Homo sapiens: one gene and its partner. The main gene of each other region encodes a partner of the protein of the gene in region 2 in a complex. Links are inferred from orthologs where the notes say so. Each region holds a gene or a part of one and is shown on either strand. Other genes may lie near its edges. The genes, in order: QTRT1 and QTRT2.

The links.
Region 1: the proteins of QTRT2 (region 2) and QTRT1 are in contact, whole or in part, in a crystal structure (PDB 7OVS), measured with the Mus musculus proteins. The link is inferred for Homo sapiens from one-to-one orthologs. Residues at the interface, in NP_001343258.1 of Mus musculus: Arg39, Thr40, Gly41, Ser42, Ala43, Pro44, His45, Leu46, Thr47, His48, Gln49, Thr50, Asn53, Glu70, His71, Glu73, Val74, Glu77, Tyr78, Phe85, Ile86, Gly87, Phe119, Gln342, Glu343, Phe345, Tyr355, Asn359, His360, Ala363; in NP_068688.2 of Mus musculus: Thr50, Thr53, Met54, Lys55, Gly56, Ile57, Thr58, Thr59, Glu60, Gln61, Ser64, Arg80, Pro81, Leu85, Lys88, Ala89, Phe95, Met96, Asn97, Ala307, Lys308, Phe310, Pro320, Thr324, His325, Ala328, Phe329, Ala332, Leu333, His335.

The regions. Positions count from the first base shown.
Region 1 is NC_000019.10:10,697,045-10,705,409, reverse strand, and holds the start of QTRT1 (queuine tRNA-ribosyltransferase catalytic subunit 1), read right to left. Parts: upstream 3,972-8,365; 5' UTR 3,950-3,971; coding exon 3,707-3,949; intron 3,461-3,706; coding exon 3,392-3,460; intron 3,295-3,391; coding exon 3,156-3,294; intron 1-3,155.
Region 2 is NC_000003.12:114,059,003-114,067,509, reverse strand, and holds part of QTRT2 (queuine tRNA-ribosyltransferase accessory subunit 2), read right to left. Parts: intron 2,280-8,507; exon of another isoform or gene 2,274-2,279; coding exon of another isoform or gene 2,253-2,273; coding exon 2,053-2,252; intron 1,283-2,052; coding exon 1,227-1,282; intron 1-1,226. UniProt on the Homo sapiens protein: Non-catalytic subunit of the queuine tRNA-ribosyltransferase (TGT) that catalyzes the base-exchange of a guanine (G) residue with queuine (Q) at position 34 (anticodon wobble position) in tRNAs with GU(N) anticodons (tRNA-Asp, -Asn, -His and -Tyr), resulting in the hypermodified nucleoside queuosine (7-(((4,5-cis-dihydroxy-2-cyclopenten-1-yl)amino)methyl)-7-deazaguanosine).

The DNA of each region.
Region 1 (8,365 bases), on a different chromosome or scaffold from region 2:
AAAACTAGCCAGGTGTGGTGATGGGCACCTGTAATCCCAGCTACTCGGGAGGCTGCAGCAGGAGAAGTGCTTGAACCCAGAAGACAGAGGTTGCAGTAAGCCAACACAGTGCCACTGCACTCCAGCCTTGGTCAAAGAGTGAGACTCCTTCTCAAAAAAGAAAAAAAAAAAGAAAAGACGAAAAAATAAATATGGGGCTGGGTGCGGTGGCTCACGCCTGTAATCCCAGCCCTTTGGGAGGCTGAGGCAGGTGGACCACCTGAAGTCAGGAGTTCAAGACCAGCCTGACCAACAAGGTGAAACCCCGTCTCTACTAAAAGTACAAAAATTACCAGGCGTGGTGGCAGGCACCTGTAGTCCCAGCTGCTGGGGAGGCTGAGGCAGGAGAATAGCTTAAACCCGGGCAGCAGAGGTTGCAGTGAGCCAAGATCGAGCCACTGCACTCCAGCCTAGGTGACAGAGCGAGATTCCACATCAAAAAAAAAAAAAAAAATTACGACATTCATTAAAAAGCTAGAACTTTAGCTGGGCATGGTGGCTCACACCTGTAATGCCAGCACTTTGGGAGGCTGAGGCAGGCGGATCACCTGAGGTCGGGAGTTCAAGACCAGCCTGACCAACATGGAGAAACCCCGTCTCTACCAAAAATACAAAATTAGCCGGGCATGGTGGCGCATGCCTGTCATCCCAGCTACTCGGGAGGCTGAGGCAGGAGAATCGCTTGAACCCAGGAGGCAGAGGTTGCTGTGAGCCGAGATTGCGCCATTGCACTCCAGCCTGGGCAACAAGAGCGAAACTCGGTTTCAAAAAAAAAGAGGCCGGGTGCGGTGGCTCACGCCTGTAATCCCAGCACTTTGGAAGGCCGAGATGGGCGAATCACGAGGTCAGGAGATCGAGACCATCCTGGCTAACACGATGAAACCCCGTCTCTAGTAAAAGTACAAAAAAATTAGCTGGGCGTAATGGCGGGTGCCTGTAGTCCCAGCTACTCCGGAGGCTGAGGCAGGAGAATGGCATGAACCCAGGAGGCGGAGCTTGCAGTGAGCCGAGATCGCGCCACCGCACTCCAGCCTGGGAGACTAAGCAAGACTCCATCTCCAGAAAAAACAAACAAACAAACAAAAAACACATGGGGGCTGGCACAGTGGCTCATGCTTGTAACATGAGCACTTTGAATGGTCAAGGCAAAGGACTGTTTGTAGCCAGGAGTTCAAGACCAGCCCAGATAATGTAGTGAGACTCTAATCTCTACAAAAAATATTTGGCCGGGCATGGTGGCTCACACCTGTAATCCCAGCACTTTGGGAGGCCAAGGCGGGCAGATCGCTTGAGGTCAGGAGTTCAAGACCAGCCTGGCCAACATGGCGAAACCCTGTCTCTACTAAAAATACAAAAAACTAGCTGGGCGTGGTGGCATGCACCTGTAATCCCAGCTACTTGGGAGGCTGAGGCAGGAGAATTGCTTGAGGCCAGGAGGCAGAGGTTGCAGTGACCTGAGATTGTGCCACTGTACTCTAGCCTGGGTGACAGAGTGAGACTCTGTCTCAAAATAATACATAAAAATAAATAAACATAAAAAAATAAACTTATAGGCCGGGCACAGTGGCTCATACCTGTAATCCCAGCACTTTGGGGGACCAAGATGGGCAGATCACTTGAGGTCAGGAGTTCGTAACCAGCCTGGCCAACATGGTGAAACCCCATCTCTACTGAAAATACAAAAATTAGCTGGGTGTGGTAGCGGGCACCTGTAATCCCAGCTACTTGGGAGGCTAAGGCAGGCGAATTGCTTGAACCAGGAGGCAGCTGTTGCAGTGAGTCATGATCGCGCCTCCGCCTCCCAAAGTGCTGGGATTACAGGCGTGGCCACCGCACCCAGCACGTGGCTTCTTTTCTTATAAGGGTTTTTGTTATAGGGGCTTCAGCCATGAATCTAAGAAGAAAAAATATTTCTTCCTCCCTACAGCATCAATCTATTAGAATGATGAGGGGAAGAGGGGTTTTGACCCTGTGTTGCCATGGTTCTTTATCAAGAAATGGGGATATTGGGCCAGGCGTGGTGGCTCACACCTATAATCCCAGCACTCTGCGAGGCCGAAGCAGGTGGATCACCTGAGGTCCGGAGTTTGAGACCAGCCTTGCCAACATAGTGAAACCCGTCTCTACAAAAAATACAAAAATTAGCTGGGCATGGTGGCAAGCAGTTGTAATCCCAGCTACTCAGCAGGCTGAGGCAGGAGAATCACTTGAACCCAGGAGGTGGAGGTTGCAGTGACTGGATATCACACCATTGCACTCCAGCCTGGGCGACTCTGTCTCAAAAAAAAAAAAAAAAAAAAAAAGCCAGGTGTGGTGGCTCACGCCTGGAATCCCAGCACTCTGGGAGGCCGAGGCAGGCGGATCACCTGAGCTCAGGAGTTTGAGAGTAGCCTAACCAACATGGAGAAACCCTGTCTCTACTAAAAATACAAAATTAGCCAGGTGTGGTGGCGCACACCTGTAATCCCAGCTACTCGGGAGGCTGAGTCAGGAGAATCACTTGAACCCGGGAGGCAGAGGTTGCAGTGAGCTCAGATCGCAAAATTGCACTCCAGCCTGGGCAACAAGAGCAAAATTCTGTCTCAAAAAAAAAAAAAAAAAAAAAAAAAAAGAAGGATATTGAGGATATGGGAGAAGCCTAAAGCCTCCCCAATCCTCTTGTTGCCACCATTATTTCAACAGATATTTGTCCAATTAATTTGTTTTTTTTATTTTTTATTTTTTATTTTGGTAGAGACAGGGTCTCCCTGTATTGCCCAAGCTGGTCTCCAACTCCCGGCCTCAAGTGATCTTCCCGCCTCAGTTTCCCAAATTGCTGGGATTACAGGCATGAGCTTCCACGTCCAGTCTTAATTTGCTAATGAGAGAAAAACTGCAATAATAATACTTAAGCTACTACATGGCTGGGATGGAGATTTACTGACATCATCTCATATGTACTTGTCAACAATTCTACCAAAGACCTGCTACTATTTACCCCCGCTTTGAGTTGGTTCAACTGAAGCTCAGCGAGGAGTGACCTGCTCAAAGCCACACAACAGCTAAAAAACAGGCCCCGTGTAAACTTCACCCCCTGACAGACAGGGTAAGGAGGCGGCTCCCCAGGGTCCTCTCACCCAGCGCATTCTGGATCTGCACGGATTTCTCCGGGCTCAGCAGGGTCTCATTGCCGTCGTAGGGGGAGCGGAAGCGGACGCCCTCCTCCGTCACCTCGGACAGAGACACCAGCGACACCATCTGGAAACCGCCGCTGTCCTAAGGGAAACCCCACCGCAAAGCTGTCAGGGGGTGGAGATGGGGACCCTTCACTCCAGAGAAGGGCCCTAGAACGTCGGCTCTCTCCTCAGCTCACCGTTAGCAGATTATGAGGCCAATTCATGAAGCCGTGGAGACCGTTGGCTTTCTGGATCAGCTCGGGTCCCTGGGTTGATGGAAGAAAGTGTCAGGTTAGGGGTGACCGCGTCCCTGGGGGCCCTTCTTGGGAGACAGATCTGGCCAGCTTTAGTCCCTGCTGCTCTTTCACGCCCAGTACAAGGCCTGGTCATTGGGGGCGCTCAATACAGCTGGTCGATTGACTTTGGGAGGAGTGTCCGGGCCTGGAGGACGCTCCATGGCTCCCCACGCCTCGCCGCCTCGCCGCCTCCCCGCGCGGGCAGAGCCCACCCACCGGCCTTAGACCCAGATGGTAGGTATTGCCCAGGCAGATGCGGCAACCCAGAGCGTCCAGCTGTTCGGTCGTGATGCCCTTCATGGTGGCCTGCGTGCCCACTGGCATGAACACAGGAGTGGCCACTGTCCCATGCGGCAGCCACAGCTCGCCTGCCCGGGCCCTGGAGCGGCTGCATTCGGCCACCAGCCGCATGATCCGTGGGGCCGACTCCAGGGAAGCCTGGGTAGCTGCTCCCGCCATCTTGACTGTCGGAACCACGTGGGCCGTACCACACAGTGGGCGGCGCCATGTTGGCCGCTGTCACGTGACCACGCGATCCGTTCTGGAGCCCGGGAAAGCGTCGGGGGACCATGGCAACGGATTTGAACCCCTGGTCCTGGCTGGGGGCCCATTTAACTCCTACCCACAACACGCTAAAGCGAAGAATCAGAATTGAACTGGGAACGAATCCCATCCCTAGCACTTTCGAGCTACAATCAGAGACTCTCTTAGCCATAATTTTCTCTTGGATAAAATGTGGCGAATTACAGCATCTCGGCATAAAGACTTTGTAAAGATTGAATAAAGGGCCGGGGGTGGTGGCTCACGCCTGTAATCCCAGCACTTTGGGAGGCCGAGGAGGGAGGATCACGAGGTCATGGGATGGAGACCATCCTGGCTAACACAGTGAAACCCCGTCTCTACTAAAAATACAAAAAATTAGCCGGGCGCAGTGGCAGGCACCTGTAGTCCCAGCTACTCCGGAGGCCGAGGCAGGAGAATGGCGTGAACCTGGGAGGCAGAGCTTGCAGTGAGCCGAGATCGTGCCACTGCACTCCAGCCTGGGTGACAGAGCGAGACTCCATCTCAAAAAAAAAAAAAAAAAAAAAATTAAGCTGGTGTGGCTGGGTGCGGTGGCTCACGCCTGTAATCCCAGCGCTTTGAGAGGCTGAGGCGGGCGGATGACCTGATGTTGGGAGTTCGAGACCAGCCTGACCAATGTGGAGAAACCCCGTCTCTACTAAAAATACAAAATTAGCCAGGCATGGTGGTGCATGCCTGTAATCCCAGCTACTCCGAAGGCTGAGGCAGGATAATTGCTTGAACCTGGGAGGCGGAGTTTGCAGTGAGCCGAGATCGTGCCATTGCACCCCAGCCTGGGTAACAGGAGCAAAACTCTGTGTCAAAAAGAAAAAAAAGTTTTAAAAATTAAAAAATTAACAGGTTGTGAGCCAGGCACGGTGGCTCACGCCTGTAATCCCAGCACTTTGGGAGGCCAAGGCGGGCGGATCACGATGTCAGGAGTTCAAGACCAGCCTGGCCAGTATGGTGAAACCCCGTCTCTACTAAAAAAATACAAAAATTAGCCGGGCGTGGGGGTGCGTGCCTGTAGTCCCAGCTATTCGGGAGGCTGAGGCAGGAGAATCGCTTGAACCCGGGAGGCGGAGGTCGAGCCACGATTGCGCCACTGCACTCCAGCCTGGGCGACAAAGCGAGACTTCATCTAAAAAACAAAAACAAAAACAAAATCAAAACAAAAACATTAACATGGTGTGGTGGCACGCCCCTGTAGTCTCAGCTACTCAAGAAGCTGAGGCAGGAGGATCACTTGAGCTGAAGAGTTGGAGGCTGCAGTGAGCTATGATTGGGCTACTGTACACCAGGCTGGGCAACAGAGTGAGACCGAAACCCTAAAAAAAAAGATAATAATAATATACAATATTATATAGTAATTGTTATCATTACAACTGGATCTGATATCTGTCCTGGCCAGCAGAGAGCGCTATTGTCCCAGAAGATGTCCTTTCAATTGTCTTAAACTGAGCTACTCTGGCCAAGAGGGTGTCTAAGGGAGCCTCAAGCCCCCTATCCTGTAAGAAAGGCTAAGGATGCCGGTTGCCCAGATGGTGGGGCATCCTTAGTAAGGCCACACCCGGAAAACCCGCCTGGAAAACACCCCTGCCCACCAGCAAGCCAACCTCAGGGCCTTTGCACCTGCCTTTGTCTACAACACTCATCCTTTCTTTTCTATTTCTTTTCTTTCTTTTCTTTTCTTCTTTTTTTTTTTTGAGACAGAATCTCACTCTGTTGCCCAGGCTGGAGTGTAGTGGCACAGTCTCAGCTCACTGCAACCTCCGCCTCTCAGGTTCAAGCGATTCTCCTACGTCAGCCTCCCAAGCAACCGGGATTACAGGTGCCTGCTGCCACACCCGGCTAATTTTTTTTTTATTTTTGAGATGGAGTCTTGCTCTGCTTCCCAGGCTGGAGTGCAGTGGCACAATCTCTGCTCACTGAAAGCTCTGCCTGCCAGGTCCACGCCATTTTCCTGCCTCAGCCTCCTGAGTAGCTGGGACTACAGGCGCCTGCCACCACGCCCAGCTAATTTTTTGTATTTTTAGTAGAGACCGGTGTTCACCATGTTAGCCAGGATGGTCTTGATCTCCTGACCTGGTGATCCACCTGCCTTGGCCTCCCAAAGTGCTGGGATTACAGGCGTGAGCCACCGCACTCGGCCGTTTTTTGTTTTTTTTTTTTTTGAGACGGAGTTTTGCTCTTGTTGCCCAGGCTGGAGAGTGCAATAGTGCAATCTTGGCTCACTACAACCTCCACCTCCTGGGTTCAAGTGATTCTCCTGCCTCAGCCTCCTGAGTAGCTGGGATTACAGGCATACGCCACCACGCCTGGCTAATTTTTTTGTATTTTTAGTAGCGACAGGGTTTCTCCATATTGGCCAGTCTGGTCTCGAACTCCTGACCTCAGGTGATCCTCCCACCTTGGCCTCCCAAAGTGCTGGGATTACAGGTGTGAGCCACCGCGTCCGGCTAATTTTTGTTTTTAGTAGAGATAAGGTTTCACCATGATGGCCAGGCTGGTCTCAAACTCCTGACCTCAAGCGATCCACCCATCTAGGCCTCCCAAAGTGCTAGGATACAGGTGTGAGCCACCGTGCCCAGCTAATATTTCTATTTTTCAAAATGTTTACCAGGCGCAGTGGCTCACGCCTGTAATTCCAGCACTTTGGGAGGCCAAGGTGGGTGGATCATATGAGCCCACGAGTTAGAGACCAGCCTGGGCAACATGGCAAAAAAAAAAAAAAAAAAAAAGTTAAAAAATTACCCATAATTCCAGTTACTTGGGAGACTGAAGCAGGAGGATTGCCACAGCGCCTGGCCAATATGTGTTTAAGTCTGCTTCTTGCCAAGCTTTCTGTGTTATTCTGATGCCCACTCGTTTCAGAACCACTGTTTTTCACTCTTGGCTGCACATAGAATTACCTGTGGAGTTTTTAACTATCTCTATGCCCAGACAACTTAAACTAAAATCTATGGTGAGTAGCTTATGTACTTTGGGACGATGAAGTAGGAGGATTGCTTGAGGCCAGAAATTAGAGTCGCCCAGGCTAGGGTGCAATGGTGCGATCTCGGCTCACTGCAACCTCCACCTCCCGGGTTCAAGAAATTCTCCTGCCTCAGCCTCCTAAAGTAGCTGGGATTACAGGCGCCCACCACCATGCCCAGCTAATTTTTTGTATTTTTAGTAGAGACAGGGTTTTGCAATGTTGGCCAGGTTGGTCTCGAACTCCTGACCTCAGGTGATCCACCTGCCTCAGTCTCCCAAAGTGCTGGGGTTACAGGTGTGATCCACTGCACCTGGCCGATCATCTCTTAAAAAAAAAAATCTATGGGGATGAGACTCAGTCATCAATTTTCTTTTGTTTTTTGTTTTAAGCCTCAAGGAATTTCTGTGTGCAGCCAATGTTGCCTCTCAGTGGTTTAGGTTCCAAAAACAGCATTTCATTATCTTATCCAAAGTGAGTCTCTTTCTTTTCTGGGTGACCTTATCTTGGAGCTCTGACCTGCCTGCAATTCTTGGTTATCCAAAGCTTCTGGGATGTTGGAGGGAATCCTCTGCATTTTAGAATGCAATCACCATGATTGGATGAATGGCTGATTGGATTAAGGGTTGCCTGGATTTGCTGTTCTGAAGCTAGTATAGCCCCTTCTTTTCTTGGCCACCTAACACCTGACCCCGCTCATACACCCCTGCATTGAGAGAATGTCATATTTTTTAAGGCTAAGCCTGCCTTTCCATAGAAGTTATAATTGACAGTTACTTTCCCAGCCTGCCCTGCAGCCAGGCTGCACAAGGCTCAGGTTCTGCCATTCACAATTTGGATCAAAAGCCAGTGGTGGTGGCCGGGCACAGTGGCTCACACTTGTAATCCCAGCACTTTGGGAGGCTGAGGCGGGCGGATCACCTGAGGTCGGGAGTTTGAGACCAGCCTGGCCAACATGGAGAAACCCCATCTCTACTAAAAATACAAAATTAGCCGGGCATGGTGGCATATACCTATAATCCCAGATACTAAGGAGGCTGAGGAAGGAGAATTGGTTGAACCTGGGAGATGGAGGTTGTGGTGATCCGAGATCGTGCCATTGCACTCCAGCCTGGGCAAGAAGAGTGAAACTCCGTCTCAAAAAAAAAAAAAAAAAGAAAAAGAAAAAGAAAAAAGCCAATGATAAGGAGAAACAGGCCCTTGGGCTCGAAAACACTAGGGACAGGAGTTGGAGGCAGCTACATCCATGTCACAGAGATTCATGAAAATAAGAACAGTTTATGTCAAAACTGAAGCTACACTCAGGAAGTTTATAGGTGGTTGCACATCTGGTCTCCAGC
Region 2 (8,507 bases):
GGATCCCATTCTTAGTAAGTTTCATTGATTCACGATGACAGTTTCTTAAGTTCTTCAGTCAAAAAGACAATCATTTTTTAAAAAATGCAAAAAAAGTTTAGTAAACCATGTGCCTAAATATCATATGCTAGCCCACATTTTCGTTAAGGAAAATAAAACAGGATTCCAGTGAAAAAAAAGCAAGTGTAAAACCTCTGCAGTTTTTTCACTTTATTTTCCATAATTTCAATTATTACAATTATCTCTAGAAAGCCTACATTAGCTATTTTCATTTAATTATATGCTTGTATACTTTAAAGCTGGTTATTAAAATTGGGCTCAGGTCAAGGAGAATGATATTCCATAAATTCCTCTACTAAAATACAGGGCTTTGTGATAACCAACAGGACATCATGCAGCTGCTCTCAGAAGCAGAAGACTGAATAACCAATGGAAACAGGATTTTCATTCAAGTGAGTCCTAGATACCAGAAAAAGCGTTAGGAGAAAGCGGTGTATAGAAGAACTGATGTTCTAGCTGTCACTGCTAAGCTTTTCCTATAAATAAATAGATGCATACATCTGCATATAAAATCCTATTTCTGGAATAAAGGATAATATTAACATATCAGAATACAGCCATATACAAACGCTTCATCCTCCCCTGCATGTTTGAGGTTCAAGCATGATGAGACTACTTTGGAGCTCACGAATGCCCCATGCAAGTTCTCACCGCTGAGTCAGATACTCAGTGCCTGCAGCATCTGCCCCACACCTGTCTGGGCTCCCACTCCTAACCTGGGTAACTTTTACTCTTCCTTGACCCAGCTAAAATGCCCCTCAACTTCTCTCTCAAGAATCCTTTCTCTGGGTTTTTATGGAGGCGTAAACAAAAAAAAGAATCCGTTTTTTATTCTGACCACCTTGCACATATACCCTAGAGCAGGTTATATGCTCTGCCCTCTGGCCTGTCATGATATCCATACATATCCCTAATCCTGTAAAGCAGTAACCACAATTTTTACTAGAATTCTCTATCTTTATCCCAGCTAGGCTCCAAATTCCATGAGAGCAGCAACTGTTTCCTATTCAATCTTGACTTGCCAATGCCTGGCTCTTAGATGTTCAAATAATACTTATTAAATTTATGAATAAACAAACATATGAATGAAAGATCAAAGAGGTAACAGCACCTCCAAACTCCAAATTAACACATCACAAGGCACATATAAGTAACTTAATTTTTACCTATAAACTTTCCAACTCCTTCTTTATATTCTGTCAAGACTTCATGATGTTCTGCTCTGTAAGCAAAACAGAAAAATACATAACATAATAATGTGTCATTCTGTAAATACTCTGTACAACTGGAGCCCTCTTCTCCTCACCCAAATAAGTTACATCATGGTAAATGCTGTCTTGAATTACACCATTATTCAAGAGTTCTAACTAATTAGGCTAGGTTCATTAGCCAGAACGAAGGCCTTCAACTTGCTAGTGGTTCTGTGAGACATGAAACTGGCAAAGATCAACTCCTTCAGAATACTTGAATTTTCTTCCTTCTCTTGCCCCTTTAAAATCTCTGTTGTTAACACAACGCTGCAGACTATTATGTTAATTGGTCATATAGTAGGCTTTTCAATTAAGTATAAAGTCAGTATATACATTACACAAAATGATCTAACTTTAGTTCTGTTTCCATAAAGTAGTATTAGCAAGTATATGTGCAAAGGCAGAAAAAACTTTGAGGCTGGTGCATGATAACAGCTCCTGAACTCCAAATGCAGCTCTCACAGAACATTCCCCGCCCTGTCACCCCTGGGAGCAGTGGCGACATGGCAGTATGGGACTGTAGGTTTGGAGGAAAAGTGAAGCAGATCTAACATATAGGTCTGGCCTGTGGCTTCCAGATTAGGGCCAGAAGATGTATAATATTTGAAACCTCTCTTCTGATTTCATTATGAAAATCGACAATTTATATATATGAACAAAAAAAAATATTTCTCTTTTTTGCACCTAAGGTAACTAAGCTGCTGCCACAGTTGATACTTGAATCATTGGTTCTAACACTTACAGGGATGACAGCGTAAGCTGAGCCATGGCAGGAACCCCGTGGATATTATGCAGCGTGTGATGGGTGAGGTGTGGGGCGGAGCCAGTCTTGGTATACAGAAGGCAGCCTGGAATATCCATGGTGTGGTCCCCTGTTTTGCCCAGGTTTTTTATTTTTCCTAGGCGACAGCCATTAACTACCTTGGTAAGACTCAGCTTCATCCTAAGGGATTCTTCTAGGTCCTGTCAAGAAAAGAGCATTAAGTATAGAAGGAGCTTCACAACACCTAGAGGCCAAGCATTTTGCAAAAAAAAAAAATCTTCAGGAAAATGAATGATAGCATGCTTATTACTGCTTCCAGTCTAAATATTTTCATAGATATCAGGAACGGGGGAATGGGAAAAGACATAAAGAGAATAAGACATCTTCCCTAAGGTCCCAGAACCACATATTGGCATCAACTAATTTTAAATTTAGTCATGGAATTTTTGTCTGAGCTGATGAAAACCAAACAAATGAAAGAACAGAATTAGAAAGACTAATCATGGAAAGAATGCCATGAAGCCAAGGCTCTCTCAGCCTTGAAAATGTATACAGAGAACAGTAACACTGCTTAGGCCATACTGATTATTGATATAATCCACTTTTTTCTTTCTCCAATTTGAGGGAAGGCTAAGCAATATAGCAATTTTTTCCTAATAATGCTGTTAAGTGAAGAAAAGAGCATCCTGGTGTTTATGAAAATATATGGAAAAATAAATGTCAAAACATAAACAGATCTCTGAGGTCGGATTATTTCCCAATTTGTTCTTATATGGTATCCAAACAGAAGTGAGAAACTGTGTGGAGCATACACGCAATCCATAAGCAAAGTGTCATTACTTTTATAACTGGGAAAGACTAATATGTGTTTAAAGAAAAAAATAAAGATACACTTTCTAACTTCTATAGATATACAGGGAAAAAAAATCAGAAAACATTATCAATTACTTGTTGGGTGCTCCTAAATGATTTAGTATTCAGTGAAGCAAAATACTGGGTTCCACTTTTAAAATGCACTACAGAACTTGATAAGCACACACATCATCGGCTAAATGTCACCAGACATACCAACATTTTACAAATACTTCATTACATCTCTACAGCAAGTACCATATCTTCTGGAATTCTTAAAAACTGGGCCAGGCCCAGTTTTATTAGTTGACAAATGAGCTATCAGAGAGGATCCAATTTTCTTTTCTTTTCTCTCTTTCATTTTTTTTTGGACACAGAATCTCGCTCTGTCACCCAGGCTGGAGTGCAGTGAAGCGATCTCAGCTCACTGTAACCTCTGCTTCTCGGGTTCAAGAGATTCTCCTGCCTCAGCCTCCCAAGTAGTTGAGATTACAGGTGTGTGCCGCCATGCCCAGATGACTTTTGTATTTGTAGTAGAAATGGGGTTTCACCATGTTGGCCAGGCTGGTCTCGAACTCCTGACCTCAGGTGATCCGCCCACCTCAGCCTCCCAAAGTGCTGAGGTAACAAGCATGAGCCACTGTGCCCGGCCAGATCCCATTTTCTTAAGCATTATAGCATACCATACTCTGAAAGTCAACCATTGTTAAAATGTCACCAAATAAATAAGACATATCTATCATTAGTTAAATATATTCAAGAATAAAAACATTACTTTTTTTTAGGAGACATAAATTCTTAAATTTAAATAAAATAGCCATCTTTGTCATTAGAATCTTAGACATAAGAATAACTACTTTCTTAAAAAAAAAGAATAACTACTTTCTATATGGTCTAAGAAGAGATTTTATGCTAAACACAAATTATAAAAACTAATATAAGTGTTTGATGAAAGCCTGGTCAATTTTCTATAACTATGAGATCATTATTTCAAGTTATCACTAAGATAGAAACATACAAATAAGTGTCATTAGAACCCACATAAATGGAGACTGGTAAGGAAAAAAAGGTTATATTTTAATAAATAGTATAAAAGCTATTTTTTTACATACCCTATTGTTACACATTAAAACTGCTAAAACAAGAAGGTTCATTTAAGAAAACTGTAAAACTATACTTATAAGCTAATAAAAGCATACTGTAGAAAATATAAAAGAATTGTAATCTTTATTTATTTATCAGATAATACTGATTTCAAGTGATAAAAATGTATTTTATATTTTAAACCAACAGAGTTCTAATGTGAAATTTAAGACAGACTTTTGTAATCTAAGTAGCTCTGGAGAATTGAAGCAGGGGGAAGCACAAAGATGAGAAATGTACTTCAAAGCTTCATGAATCAATACCTGTTGTTCTGACTGAATATTGAAATCAACCAATATGGAACACTAGATTTCTTGAAACACAAATAAGAACTAATGAAAATTAAACGGACCAGAATTTTTAAATGCTGCAGTAACTTACGCATTTCCTACTATCACATACGTCTGAGAACGGAAGAAACTGTGTTGCCCGAAGCTATTTCAGAAAGGGCTAGAGACAAGAACTTGCTGGCTCCTCCAAAAATTCTATCTTACTCCAAAAATACTCTCTCATCTGAGCTGTGTAAAGTATGTAAAGAGTTTAAATGTACACACATGAACAGTGTTTTTTAAATTAAATTCATATAAAGGCACGAAGAACCTTCATTGGGTAAAACTAATACGTTTGAAAAATGAAGTATAGGATTCTAGAATGTTACTTTTATTATCTCTCCTCATCAAATTTATGCTCTCGTTTCTCCAGTTTATTAATAAATGACACAAATGACTGACAACCAAAGCTTCTGACAAGCATGAGATAATCTGCTTTTCCATGTTGTGTTAACTGAATTCCAGGTAAAAACAACAAACCCCATTGCTTTAGTAAAACTGTGCTTAATATCCCAGTATTGTATAATTACCATTAGACTTTAGAAATACTGAAAATAGTTTATAGAGTTCCATTACTACCAGAGACCCCTACCTGGGAATTCCTCATCACCACATCACCCCTTCTGCCATTTTATTGTAATCAGTCTGAGACTAGGCCTGCTTAGTCATAGGCTTGTCTAGAACCTGGGCCTCCTGCAAAAGGCCTGTATTCTTTTTATTCTTTTTTTTTTTTTTTTTTTTTTTGAGACAAGGTCTCACTCTATTGCCCAGGCTGGAGTGCAGTGGTGTAATCACGGCTTACTGTAGCCTTGACATCCCAGGCTCAAGTAACCTTCCCACCTCAGCCTCCTAAGTAGCTGAGACCACAGGTGCCCAACCACTGCACCTAACTAATTAAAAAACTTTTTTTGGAGAGATGGAGTCTCACTACGTTGCCCAGGCTGGTCTCAAACTCCTGCGCTCAAGTGATCCTCCTGCCTTGACCTCCCAAAGTGTTGGGATTACAGGCGTGAGCCACTGCACCCATCCAATTATGGCTTTTATGTGAGAGTAAATTTAACATGCTAGGAGATGCATTCAGATTTTTTTTTTTTTTTTTTTAGAATATCCTGCAGCATACCATGGCCACTGAAAATAACAAGATTTTTCAAAAGTATATGTGAAATCTATGAAACATCTTTTTGTTTTTTTCCCCTAGAACACACTGTGGAAAGTCATAAAAAGAAAGTGGCTTTGGTTGGGCACATTGGCTCACGCCTGTAATTCCAGCAGTTTGGGAGGCCAAGGTGGGCAGATCGCTTGAGCCCAGGAGTTCAAGAGCAGCCTGGGCAACACAATGAAACCCTGTCTCTACAAAAAATACAAAAACTAGCCAGGAATGGTGGCATGCACCTGTAGTCCTAGCTACTTGGGAATCTGAGGTAGGAAGATCCCTTAAGCCAGGGAGGCAGAGACTGCAGTGAGCCATGATCACGCCACTGGCACTCCAGCCTGGGCAACAGAGGGAGATCCTGTCTTAAAAACAAAGAAGAAGAAAAGAAAGAGAAAGAAAAGAGATAAAAGAAAGCAGCTGTCAAGTTCTTTAACCTGTGCCAACAGAATTACACAGGGGCTCAAAGATTAGCCACCTGCTGCTGCTCCCTCCAGTGCCTTACAGTCTTGTACTGCTTGGAGGGCTGGCTGGCCACTGGTAAGGGATTTAGGCTTCTGCCTGGTAAGCTGAGCCTGATCTTTTCTATATACCCAGCACAGAGCCATCACTCAGGGTCAGGCTCAAACCTATCAACCTCAGAGACTAAACAATAAAATCAGTATGCACAATTATTTACTCTGAGAATCGAAAAAAGCAAAGTGGATCAGTCAGTGGCATGTTTGCCCTATAGAATGCAATACATGAAGCCAAATATGCCATGCAAGCATAGAATCAGAATGGGAAGAAGAAGGTACATAAAGGCAACTAAAAGGAAACCCATCGGTTTTCTTAACACAGTACCCCCATTCACAGTTCTGCTTTCCAGTTTCAGTTACCCATGGACATCCGAGGTCCAAACATATTAAACGGAAAATTCCTGAAATAAACATAAGTTTGAAATTGCATGCCATTCTGAGTAGCATAATGAAATCTCTCACCATTTTGCTCTGTTCCACCCAGGACGTGAATCATCCCTTTGCCCAGCATCTTCACACTGTAGACGCCACTCGCCCCTTAGTTACTTAGGAGCTGTCACATTGATCAGATCAACCGTCACTGTATTGCAGTGCTTATGTTCAAGTTACCCTTATTTTACTTACGACTGGCCCCACAGCACAAGAGTTGTGATGCTGGCAATACGGATATGCCAAAGGGAAGCCATAAAGTGATCCCTTATGAGAAAAGGTTAAAGTTCTCCAACTAGGAAAAGAAAAAAGACTGTTTGCCGAGGTGACTAACATCTACTACTGTGCCTAATTAATAAATTAAACTTTATTATAGGTATGTATAGATAGGAAACATCATACTGTCTGTCTATTGTCTGTCTATCTATTTAGGGTTTGGATCTATCTAATCTATCTATCTAATCTATCTTATCTATCTATCTATCTATCTATCTATCTATCTATCTATCTATCTATCTACCTACCTACCTACCTACCTACCTATCTATCTGGGGTTTGGAACCATTTGCAGTTTCCAGCATCCACAAGGGGTCTTGGAACATATTCCCCACAGATAAGCGAAGATGACCAAACAACCAATCTCAGATTCTCCAAGGTTGGACACAAGGATTCTCTAAGAGTATAAAGGCAGCCAGACCTGGAAGCCCAGACCATTGGCTTCCAAGACTTACCTTTCTCTCAAAGACTTCTTAGTTTCATCCTTGTGTAAGGAAAGAATGAACATATTCTAGAAGTTCCCATCTTTTAACAAACGAGTCTCAAGTGTGATTAATCATCCACTCAGTCCTGAAGGCATCTTCTCTCTTCTTTCTCATCTCCCCTTCCCTCTCATCTCCCCTTCCCACTCTTTCCTCAACTGAAGAAACAACTTTCTTGATTCTTAACTGAAAGTCTGTAATTAGAGGTCCTTTGTAACTCTAAAGGACATTGGCCACCATGTTCTTAGAGGCAGAGATGGGCTCTCCTGTGATATAATGCTTTAATCCCAAATAACTTTAAAGATGAAATTCAAAATCCTCAGCTTAGAATACTGAACCCACTCAGCCAGCTGGAGAGAAATACCTACTTGGCTTTCTCTACAGTGAACGATTTTGGTGCTACATACTCACTTCTGTTGTTTGGGGCTTCATAAAAGTTCCACCCTAATCACAGTAACTCAACATATTAACGAAGAGAAAAATAAGGAAGCAAAAGCAGATGACTGGGTTTAAGAAAAAGTATTAAAATAAACTGCCATGGTCAGTGATTCTGTTTTGTGGGGATGAATGCAAATATTTTAAAATCTGAGGAAAACATCAGAGATGTACTATACTTCAGCTGGAAATCAATATTTTTTTTAAAAAAATGGAATTTTGTCCAGAGCTAGAAGAACCAAGTCTTCCTTTCTTCATTCATTGTTCAGGTTATGGTAAATGTTTTTTATAATTACACTTCTTTTCTAGAGGCTCAAATACAATAAATTGTTACTATGAAGTAATAAAATAGTACACACACATACACATATTCATGTACATATTTTTAAAAACATGCTTTGAGAGTGATTATTTCCTTTTTTGCCAAGGAAAGTTCAAGAAACAGATCAACAGTCTCCAAAATACTAACTAGTTTTTATTTGCCTTTATCATGATCCCTTCCCTTTTCACTTGTTGTGGGTCTGCTCTAATATTTCTGGTGTCACAGATGGCATTCCTGAGAAAGTCTTAAGGAAAAACCCTTAAGAGTGTAAAGACAAATGACAGGCTGTCAGTGGATCTGTACCTTTACAAGGACTAACAAAGATTCCCTGCACTTCTGGCAACACCGTACCTGTCCTAACACTTCCAGTGCGACCCACCACCTCCACTCTTCATTTATCAGGAGAGAATGGATTTTTAAATGTTTCCTAGCTGGATTCTCTACATACTGCCATGGAAATGTCCAAAATTTCCTAAGGCAAAAGATGGTCATATTTTT